Regions from separate parts of the Homo sapiens genome. Here region 1 is linked to region 2. Evidence: fine-mapped expression QTL. A gene starts in region 2. The other region holds a variant in brackets. All regions are shown on one strand. Distances are between the middles of the regions.

Region 1 (5,366 bases), 910 kb before region 2:
GCAGGGCTCGACAGCTGGGGTCCTGTAGTCCCTTACAGTCATCTTTCCCTTTAGCGCTGGAGGTGGGGCAGATTCCCTTCCTCTTCCTCCTCATCCCCATGGCTCTGACACCCCGCATAGATGTCCAGCCTCAAACTCACTGCTGTCCCTGAGATGCTGGTAGGGAATAGGGGCAGATAAAAGGTGGAGGAAGAGGGAACATACAAGGATAAGGGTTCTATGTCCAGAGAGAGAGTGATACCTAAGGGTCTGAGAGAGGGGTCGCCTTTGTTCAAACCAAACCCAGACCTTCTTAGGAGGAGATCCTTTCTTCCTTGGCTCCCCGGCGCAGCTGGAATGGGCTGGTCTCTTCCAGAGAAGGGAAGTGAACATAAGGGAGAAGGCAAAAGTGGGGCCTGCAGACGTAGCAGCCAGGTCTTTGGTCCCGCGGACCTGGCCCAGCCTCCTGCTTCTCACTAGGGGCGCTCCCCGCTCCACCGCCAAAGGGCAATCAAGCCCCTTCTTGCTCTAACTTTATGCTTTTCCCATGGCTGTGCTGTGGGCTTCTGGAGAAGAGCCTCGCTCAGCAGCCCTGCCTTTGACTCCTCTGCAGCTGTATGCAGTCAACCGGCGTCTGCGCGCCCTGGAGGAACAGGGCGCCACCTGGCGCCACAGGGAGACCCTGATCATCGCCGTGCTGGTGTCGGCCAGCATTGCCAACCTGTGGCTGTGGATGAACCAGTGATCGCCCCAGCGCGGCCTCCGTATTGGAGCCCTCCCTGCTTCCCCTTCTTTCTTTCCTCTTTCCCCAGGCCGCCACTGCCCTTGCCCCTTTCATCTCCCAGCAGCCCTCAGGAGCGTCAGGATCATTTTCAACTCTGGTTAGGCCTCCTACCTGGGGAGGCCAGGTCACTGCACTGGGAGGTCCTGGCTGCTGCGAAGCTGGAGGAGGACTGCGTGGGCTGAGATGCCACCCTTTGAAGGGTGAACAGCATGGCGGCATCTGGGCCCCACAGTAACACCTAGTGGCAACCTTGCCTTCCTGACCTCAGCGGCCCTTCTGTTCCATCCTCTGTGGGCAGGGGTGTGGCTTTGTTTTCCTCCCTCGTTTGCTTCCACCTCGTGCACAGCGCTCTGCACAGACAACACGCTCAATAAAAGTTCAGCCATAGCAGCAAAACCCTGTGGCTGAGGTTCCTGTGTCCAGCACTCACTGGGGGCAACAGTGGAGGTGGGGTGCGCTGGGAAACAACAGCTCCTCTTCACAGAGACCTTGTGGCTGGGACTGAGCCTCTGCCATTGCCCCAGGGGCCCTGGTTCCCTCCTCCCTTTCACCTCCCCCACCTCCCTGTCCCCAGCCCCAGCTTTGCAAAGTTCTTCCTGTTGGGCTCATGCAAACCAGTGCTTGTGGGGGTGTGGTTCTGGGAGCATGTCTGCGCTGTGTTGCAGGGAAGCAATCAGAGGAAATCTCCTGAAAGGGACCAGAAACCTCATTTGCGCAAGAGGAAATTGAATTCCAGAGAGAGGAAACATGTCCCTGGGTCATCCAGTGAGACAGGGCCTGGATGTGAGTTCTCTGGCGTGAGTTCTCCTGAGTCCTACGCTAGGGCTTGGCCTGCCTCCTGCAGACAGACTCACTGGAGATGAGGTCCTGCCTCAGCTCTGGAGGCTGAACGGGAGCTACACATACCCCTCACCCTACCCACCACACACTCTGGGTCCACAGCCCATGAAGCACACCTCAGACAGGGTGAATAGCTGGGCTGTCCAGTGGGGCTGAGCCTGAGAGGTGGAGAATGTTGCCTGCCATGTGGGGGCCTGACCACAGTGCAGATGTGCCTGGTGCAGGAGGCCTGCAGAGGAGCTGCAACCCCTTTCCCTGGGACCAAGGGCTCAACACACATGTCTCTGACCCAGAACTTTCTCATTGGCTTTAGTTGCTAAGTGCACCTTCCCTAATCCCCCAAATCTGTCAAGGATTCTCCATCTGTAAAGACTGGGAAGCGTGTTAGTCCCTAGGTATGAAATGAACGTGTGTGTCTGTGTATGTGAGAGAGAGAGACAGAGAAGAGACAGGGAGAGGAGGGGAGGCGAGGAGAGAAGAAAGGATGGAGGAAGGGAGAGGCAGAGAGAGAGATACAGTCAGCGATACAGAGCGGCAGAGGGAGGGAAGTTAGAGTAGAGAGAGAGAGAGAGAGAAGCTTGAGTCCCAGAGCCTGCTCTGTCCCTGCTCCACCTCTTTCTCTCTGGTCCTCAGTGGGCTCCTATACAATGAGGGGGTTCTTCCACGCCTGACACTCTAGGGCTTGCAATACTTCTAAGATGA[G/A]GATGCAGGGCCTCCTGTCAGCCCTGTGGGACACGAGGCACGTGGCCCCTGGAGCCTGGGCCCTGCTCAAAGCAGAGAAAAGGACACCTAGGAAAGAAACACCAGAGAGAAAGATTCTCTCTCTGGTCCCAGAGCACAGAGGTAATCAAGTGCCACAGGAAGCCCCTCTGCAGAATGGGGAAACAGCAGCACCCAGATATGAGTACTTCTGGCCAGGAGAGCCAAGAGGGCCAGGGAGTACCAGGGGTGTTCCCTGTCCTCTGCAAATGGGGCCTGGGGCCCCAGGAGTCACCCATGGGCTAGATGGAAGACTGGGGGACCTCCTTGCAGGCCGCCCCTCCCCTTCCTGCAGCTTCAGGACAGAGCAGGACCCAAGATACAGAGGAATATTAAGGGAAGCAGGGAGATGGAGCAGGGGCAGCACGTGCAGCTTCTTGCCATCAGCCCAGTGCTCCAACTGCCATGAGTCCAGCCTTCACACTGTCTACCCCGGGCTGCCCCTTTCTCCGGCCCCAGTCAGGCCCCACAGGGAAGCTCAGAGGAAGAGGAGGCTGCAGCTGGGAAGGGCTGGGTCTGCCCTTTGGGACCTGAGTGTTTGTGAGCCTGCACAGACATGGACATGTTTGCAGAAAAAGTCTGGCTGAAAATATGTTGTGAAACAAAGGTTCACCCTTGGGAGCAATTTAGTTGAGTTGCAAACAAACAGCACGGCAGTGCCCTAGAGGAACGTCTCCTGAGCCAGGTGGGCTCATAAGGAGCCCGTGGCTGGGCCTCCACCCTGCCTTTCTGTGTGACCATTTGGCTGGTTCCCAGCAGGGCTGGAGGCCAGTTCCTAGAAGGGCATTCCTGCTCTATCTCTAGAACTCCCTGCCCCACCTAGAAGACCTCAGGAAGCTCCTGAGAGGAACTGGAGTCAGAGCTGCCCAGTCTGGGCCCCTCTGCAATGTTCCTTAAGGGGCATGGGGACCATATTGTGGGGGCTGGCACATCTGTGATTCCCAAGCCTCTGGGAGATCCAGGGAGGCTCGGGGGCAGAGTGCCAGGAGGCAAGTTGGCACCTCCTGCCTGGCCCTCTGGCTCTGACCCACCTAGAGCATTTGCCCATCTGATTGCATTTCTCTGCCAAACTGTCCTTGCCTTGCCCAACCTCTCCACCCTGAGCCCAGCCCTTCCTCCAGCAAGCCATGAACTTCCCCATGGTGAAGCAGGATGCTGTGGGTGAATGAAGGAGGGAAGGAACTCATTCTTACTTGGGGGTGGGGGAGGGGATTCTCCTGGCGTGCTGTTTTTCTCTAGTCTTTGAAGCTTCCCAGGGGCTGCCCAGGCTTAGTATTAGAGGGGTACACATCAGTCCTCCACTGGATCAGTAGCTTCTTGAGGGCACAAGGTAGCCTGCATTGTCTTCTGCACTCCTGGAACAAGTAAAGGACTGGCAGGATGGCCTCTGATTAGGGTCCCCAGAGATTGAATCTAGCCCTGGTCTTCCCCTCCTGGCCTTTAGGGTATGCCTTCTGTTGAAAACCTTTCCCCACCAAAGGGAGCCAATTCTATTCTTCGCTTCCTACGGCACACCTACTCTGTGCCATGCACTTTGCATCTTAAAAATATTTAATTACGCAAGTTGTGCATGAACACATTCTCCCCAAAAAGGCAAACATTGCAGGCCTAGCTAACACAGTCCCTTGCACCCCAAATGCCAAGTCCCTCCACTGAATTATTTCCCATGGTTTGGTTGGTGCGTATCCTTGCGAACTCTCTATGCTGTTCCATGCAGATTATGCGCACCTGTATGTATCCCAGGCTTTGCACGCAGGATGTCATTTAAGCCCCTCCTAGCAGCCCCCTGAGGGAGTGGCTTGTCTTCCCAGCTGGCTGCGCAGGTGGGCAAAGCTTTAATCCTCCATTTATGTAGTTCTCTGCCCTGCCAAGTGGGCCCCTGGTCCCCCGCCAGTCCTGGTCAAAAGCTGAAACTCAATATTCCAGTTCTTTTGTCACAGGCTGGCTTCCTGGCAGCTGGTGGAAGGTGGGAAGAGGAAGGTGGGCATGTGAGGAGGGGTACATGAGGGTGCATGGAGGGGACTCTGGTGTACCCAGGAGCAGCCTGAAATCCTGGCTTCTTGGAAAGGAGCCCAAAGCTCACTGCCCCAAGGGTCTTGCCTTGTTTCCCTTCCCTAACCCCAACCCTTCTTGGAGGCCAAGTCCAGGGGACCTGGCAGAGAAGGTATGGATTTTCCCCTCAGGCCAGCCCTACCCCAGGTACCTCTTCTCTCAGATTTCTCCCTGGCTTGACCTCAGATCAGGTGGACTGGTTGAGATTGTGCCAAGGTCTGGAGGCAAGTACACCAGGGCTGTGAGCTGGTGGGGTTGAATCCCCAGACACATAGCTCTGAGCATGCTCCGTGCAAGGCAGGGCTCCTCAGGGAGCTTGGGAGGGGCTGGCTTCTGGATCTGGGCAGGCAAGCAGCTTCTACAGCCAGGCAGCCCAGCACCCAGCCCTCGCCTGCCAACAGCCTGGGGTGTACAGTGCCCACAGACAGGCCAGCTTCTCCATTGGGCAGGTGACACCCTGGGGCAGCGTCTTGAGTTTGCCTTAGCCATGAGCATGAGCTCTTCTTGGCCTCTGCCAGCTTCTCCTGTTGGCCTCAGGCAGGGTGGGGCAGCTCTCTGACCCCGAGGCTGCAGCTAAGTTGTCAGGGGCTCAAGGGCCCCGCTGGCCTGAGGGGCAGGAATGGCAGGAGATCTCTGTTAGCTCCAGATGCCGATGAGCCCCCAGTGGTTTGTCTCTGACTGGAGGTTGTGCAGAAGGACCAACGGATGCTGACTGGCCAGGAGAGCCCCTGCCTCTGAAGCCATCTGATTGGTGAGGAAAGCGGCTGACCTTGGGCTGATACCTTTCTGTGACCACAGGCCAGTTACCTCCATGGGGGTACAGAACTGGAGTCCGTGAAAAGTGCGTGGGCCCTAGAACCTGGCTTGACATGGGTCTTCATATGTGTCATCTGCCGAGGGAGCTGAGGAAAGTGGCTGTGTTGGGAAACTTTGTCCCCTGTTAAAGCAGCCA
Region 2 (5,363 bases):
CGTAACTCTGATACGTGAAGTCTTTGAGAGTTTGTTTTTGTTGTCTACTGGCTGTCATGGTCTATGTGTTTCCTTTTATGCCAAGTTATCTTTGACTATACGCTGACATATTTTTGAAAAATTATTGTACAAATGATTCTAGGCCCAATATGATAATACCTTCCAGCAGAGTCTTTTCATTTGCTGGGGTATTTTCAAATGCCTGAGGATACTACTTGTCCAAGGCCACTTTAATCCAAGATCAGGGCTTTAGGTTCCTTGGACTGCCCATATGATGAGTATCTAGGTTTACAAGACCACACAAGGGCTGGTTACTTATAGGTCACCATTAACCCAAAGGGGTAGCCACTCAGGGTCTCAGCTGAGAGTGACAAGAATGCTAATCAAATCCGCTACTTCCTTGGGCCTTGAGCTTTCACTTTTTTCCTTATGATGCCACCAAAACTGCAGCTCAATTTCATAACTCTCTTCCAGATTCAGTAGAAGCCATCAGGACAAAAGAGGATTCTAGTGCTGGGCTTTCCCCCCTGGGTTCTTGTCTTCTTCCGGATTTTAGCCTCAGTATCTCTCAGTTCTTTATGACAATTATTTCTTTCTACATTCAGCCAGTTTGTTTCATTGTCCTCACTGGAACAGCTAGTCCAAGTTACCTAGCTGGCCATTACCAGAAGGAGATGTGTGCTCTTCTTGCCCCCAGTCCCTCTCCCTCCCAGTTTTTCCTTCAGTGCGAAGGTGCCACTCTGATTGTATCATTCCCTTGCACAAATCCTTCAGAAGATTACTGTTGACTCTAAAATAAAATACAATTTTTTATTTTAGAAAATTAGGACCCAGATTCTTTCTCTTGCCTCATTCATTACACAAGAATTTATTGTACACTGAGTGTGTGTTGCTTACAAAGTCAGGTTCTGCCTAATCTCTCACCTCTTACCTATCTCACCTGTTGTCTTACCTCCAAACTTACTCTACCCTTTAGCCAAACTGGAATATTCACTGTCGTGTGCAGAGCTGGGTCAGAACACAGATGGGCTAACTTCCAGATGAGTGTTCTTTGTCCTACACCATTATCCCATATTCAGGTTTAAGCTTATTCAATCTAGATCTTTATGGATATTATAATAAATTAACTAGGCAAACGCTCAATAAGTACAAATTATAATGGCATTTTTGTATTTCTTGTATTTTGGCTATCCTTTTCTTGTGAGTCAGAAATTTCAATGAAGCATTACCTCTAGGGAGACCCGAAGTAGGGGAGGGCCTTCTGGGATGTAAGTTCTGGAAGAGAATTCATCGTTGCCGTCAACTTTTTGTCAATCTTCATAGTCACAAGGGTACCTAAGAACAAAATTTCAGGCTTCAGGCTTGTTTCCCCTAACAAATGAGCGACCAGACCAATTGCCTGTGGAATTTGATTCCTCAGTGCTGGGAACATCCCACATTCAAACAAATCTGCTCCCACCTGCTGGTGGTTGCTAGAACTTCCAGTCAAAGCTGACTTAGACTGAAAACGCACTCTTCTCGAAGTAAGCAGACCTGGAAATGTGGTTTTTAGTTTTGGCCTCTGCTACTGTGTGACCTTGGGCCAATCCCTTTTTCTTCTCTGGGCTTCAGTTTCCCTACATTACAACCGAGGTGGCTGGACAAAATGCCCCGGAATGGCTCTAACATTTTTGGCAAACAAGGATTTTCTCTACAAGGACGTCTGTGTGACCAGAGGTGATGGGACAGGACTGGTAGCAGTAGAGGTGGGTTTAATCTGCTCTCATATGTGATCCTGACAAATGGGTCCCATCATCCTTTTTTCTTACTGCAATGGCCAGGGAAAGAGGGGAGATGGGAAAGAAAGGTGTGAGGGTGTTCTGCTCATTAAAAGAAGGCAGGAAACTATGAGAGACATTTTTCATAAAAGTATGGTTCTAAAATGATTTTAAAGGGGGAGTGGTAAAAGAGTTAAACCCTCAGCTGTGCAAAACTGCTTGGCCTACCAGGTAAGTCATGCTTTGCTGGGCACCAGCAATCTCAACTCATTTCATCAAATACTGAGGGGAAAAAAAGGGGGAGATGTTGTGTTTCTCAGTGAATGTTCTAGGTAACCAAAAGTAAACCTGAAATCCGTTTTGATTTCAACTCTTCTCAATGGTGTGATGTGGGAGGTGGCATGCCGGTGAACATGGCAGCTCTGTTTGTTGATTACCCATTTGCCCTATGGGCTCTGGTGAGGCCACTTTCTAAGCTTTCTGAACTTGCTTTGTCATGGGATAGGAAGGACATAGGAAATTGGGTGGAGGCATTTCTTATCCTCCACGATTTTTCTGTCCCATAGGGGCAGAGTCTGAGGTAGTGGAAAGAATAAGAGCCCTCTAGTCAAGATGTCAGGCTTTTCCATATGATGGGGTCAGAACCCAGGAACATTGGCATACCCTGGTCTCCAGTGCCTAACTCCCTTGAACACCCCAAACACTGACCTTGGCCTTTTTTTCCCCTTCTATGGTGTCAGCCATGAACCTTCATTCTGCATCCCCTGGCTGATGAGACACAACCACATCTCAGAGAGACCCCAGTTGGTGAGCCCTTCCAGTTCCTTGAGTCTTTTTCCTGAGTACCCAAAGTTGGGGTGAAGAGCACTCTAGGAAATTTAAGTCTTAAGCAACTCTTGGGCTCCTGTAGCCCAATGTCCATCCTGAGGGAGGAGCAGTCCTGCTGTGGCCAGAGCCCTGTAACAAAACCCATTAGGATCCTCCTTGACCTTATCCAGAGACAAGGCACGCGGGGTTACTGGAGGCTCAAGGGTACGGAGTCACCAGCCGTTGGGTACCTCCTGACGCCCAAAATTGTCCAAGTCTTTCAGAATGCAGATTCAGCCATGGCGGTCAAATTACCACACTCCCTTCACCATCAAATACAACTCTCGGGCACAGGCCCTTTCTTCCAAGAAAAACACACATTTCGCATTTTGCAGAGAAGAGACAGGACCCAGTGCCCCTTGAGGCGGATTCCTGGCCCAGCCCCCAAGGAGCCAGCCCTCCTCCCCCTCCCCCAGCCCGGCCCCGCCCTGCCTGTGTCTGGAGATGGCCGGGGGATGACTGCAGAAGCCTGAAGGGGCGGGGGCCGGGCGGCGCGCAGGCTACGGGCGGAGGCAGGAGCGCGCGCCTTTTTGTGCGGCTCCTGGCAGCTGTCCGATTGGCTGGGCCTGCGATGCCGTCGGAGTGGGCGGAGCCAGCAGCGAGCTGGGATCTGTGCCCAGTCGCAGCCAGGAGCGGCCGCAGACGGAGCGCACCTCGCAGCTGCCGGGCGGGCCCTGGGGGGAGCTGCGTCCAGCAGAGCTGCTGGGTGGTTGCTCCTCCCGGGCTCTCATCTCCGGTATCCGGGCCGACCCCCGCACCCCCTACTTCCCTTGCCCTCGCTGCTCTCTCCTTAGAGGCGACTCTTTGGGGAAGGGCCAGCAATCCCGCCTTCCCCGGCCCCAGTAGTCACCCACTCTCCCACCCCACCTCTGTTCCTTTTCGCGGCCCCGTCTCCCGCGCCCTCAGGCGCCCAGAACGCCCCGGCCATGGGCATCCGAGGCATGCTGCGAGCCGCAGTGATCCTGCTGCTCATCAGGACCTGGCTCGCGGAGGGCAACTACCCCAGTCCCATCCCGAAATTCCACTTCGAGTTCTCCTCTGCTGTGCCCGAAGTCGTCCTGAACCTCTTCAACTGGTAAGCGGGCACCGCCAGGCTAGGCACGGCGGGGACGGGAATGGAGACGGGCAGACGACCTCTGGCCTCTTGGACGGAGCGGGCTGGGGGCGACTCGGGCTGGGGGGTACTCGGACCCGGGCTCGCTGAGCCCTGGCGCCCGGGCCCTGCCTGTTGGCCCCTAGAAGGGGTAAGGTGGGAGTGGGGTGTTGAAATGGAGCCCTGTGCTTCCGCCCACCTGTTACTGCGGAGCTTGACTGAGCCCTGCGTGTGCCTAAACCGCAGCCCGAGGGGTGGGGGCGGGGGTCGCCCTCGTCCCAGGATCTGTCCATCCATCCCCAAGGATTTAAGGTTCCCGGCAGCTTTCCCCAGCTTTGGCACCTGTGGGATTGGGGAGGAGGGTACAGGATGACGGGCAATTCACAAAACATAGACAGGAGAGACACCTGTTTGAGTCTACATTTTAGTCCATTTCCTGAGGCGCGCGCGCGTGCATGCATGTGTTGAGGGGATGAGGGACTCTTTCCAATGCGGCAGATAGAAATGATTAACTCAAACCCATCGGAGCCCAGACAGTGCGATCGTGTCTGAATAAACACGAACCGTGTGGTCTGGGATGGGTGTGCTTTTGTACTTAGTCGTGTGAAAATATTTGAAGACTCCGGTTTTTTTCTCTTTTTGATTTTAAGTTTGTTTGGGTGTGCGAGTATCTGAAGCCTTTACATGTAAATCACACAGAAATGTGTATTTGGGGTGGCCACAGATCCTGAGCGTTGGCACATGGGTAATGTGTGCTTGGAAACAGGTGGGAATGCATTGCTTTAATTTGGGAATAATTCATGTGCACATTTTGGGATGCTGCAAAATGAAATTTTTGATTAAAGATGATTAGGAATAATTTTTAACAATGTTTAAATGGCAAGCCAGAAATTAACATGTACTCATAAAGGGGGGGGGGGTGTTTGGCAAGGTTCCAGCAGACAGCCCTGCAGTGCCCTTAACCCAACATACCATACTGCGCCACTGAACATGCACACATGCGCGTGCGCACACACACACACACACACACACACAAACACACACATTTGCAGGGGCTGACGTTCCCTGGGCAATGCGTCAAAGATTTGAAGAGTCACAGTGATGCCGGGGCCTGTTCTGATTCGCAAGCCCTGTTGGGGAAGGAGCCCTGTTGAAGGTCTAGGTGAATTGGGTGAGCGTGTCAGAGATCTCTGGAAAAGCCAGCTCTCCACAGAGCTGGGCTGAGTCCACTTACCTATGCTCACCCAAGACACCTCCAGGGTGGAAGCACATGCTCAGCAAGAGATATACCTGCTCCCAGAATAGATGTCTTTCCGATGAGAGCTCTGAGCCCCAAGAATCTGAAATGGTTTGGTTGGATGAGGGTCGTAAATCTCAGCTACACCAGCAAGGCTCTCTCTGTGTGTCTTATGCCATATGCCAAGTCTGGAAAACAGAGTTGTGCAGAAACAAGGTTGACATAAAAGTGACTAAAAAATGCCCAGCCCTAGCCCAGGTAAGGGGAAATGAAACTTTGAGCTCATCTTACTAGGGCACTGAGAGCAAAAGATGACTTTTCCTGGGGCAATCAGGTGCCCCTGGCAGGAGGACCCCCACCAACCTAGAAAACAGCGTCGAGGCTGATTGCAAGATGGGGCTCTTGAAGG

Direction of the effects. Positions count from the first base shown, and alleles are read on the strand shown. Sizes are in standard deviations (SD) of each study's normalised expression.
With allele G in place of A in region 1, the expression in esophagus mucosa of the gene that starts at base 3,243 in region 2 is higher (small effect, 0.13 SD a copy in GTEx).

Evidence for each region. PIP is the estimated chance that this variant, and not a neighbour inherited with it, causes the effect.
Region 1: its variant is the best candidate, but not a certain one, in a credible set for the expression of GABRQ in esophagus mucosa (GTEx, PIP 0.51).

What each region holds. Positions count from the first base shown.
Region 1 is chrX:151,722,036-151,727,401 of GRCh38, forward strand. It overlaps FATE1 (fetal and adult testis expressed 1), which reads left to right. Exons shown (of 5, transcript NM_033085.3): 5 at 593-1,159. The coding sequence ends at 724. Among named protein-coding and RNA genes, the nearest start is that of FATE1, 8.7 kb to the left of the region's middle. The variant G/A (reference allele first, on the strand shown) is at 2,306.
Region 2 is chrX:152,634,653-152,640,015 of GRCh38, forward strand. It overlaps GABRQ (gamma-aminobutyric acid type A receptor subunit theta), which reads left to right and starts at 3,243. Exons shown (of 9, transcript NM_018558.4): 1 at 3,243-3,699. The coding sequence starts at 3,551. MAGEA3-DT (MAGEA3 divergent transcript) reads right to left here. Exons shown (of 5, transcript XR_938525.3): 3 at 4,952-5,142; 4 at 1,230-1,335.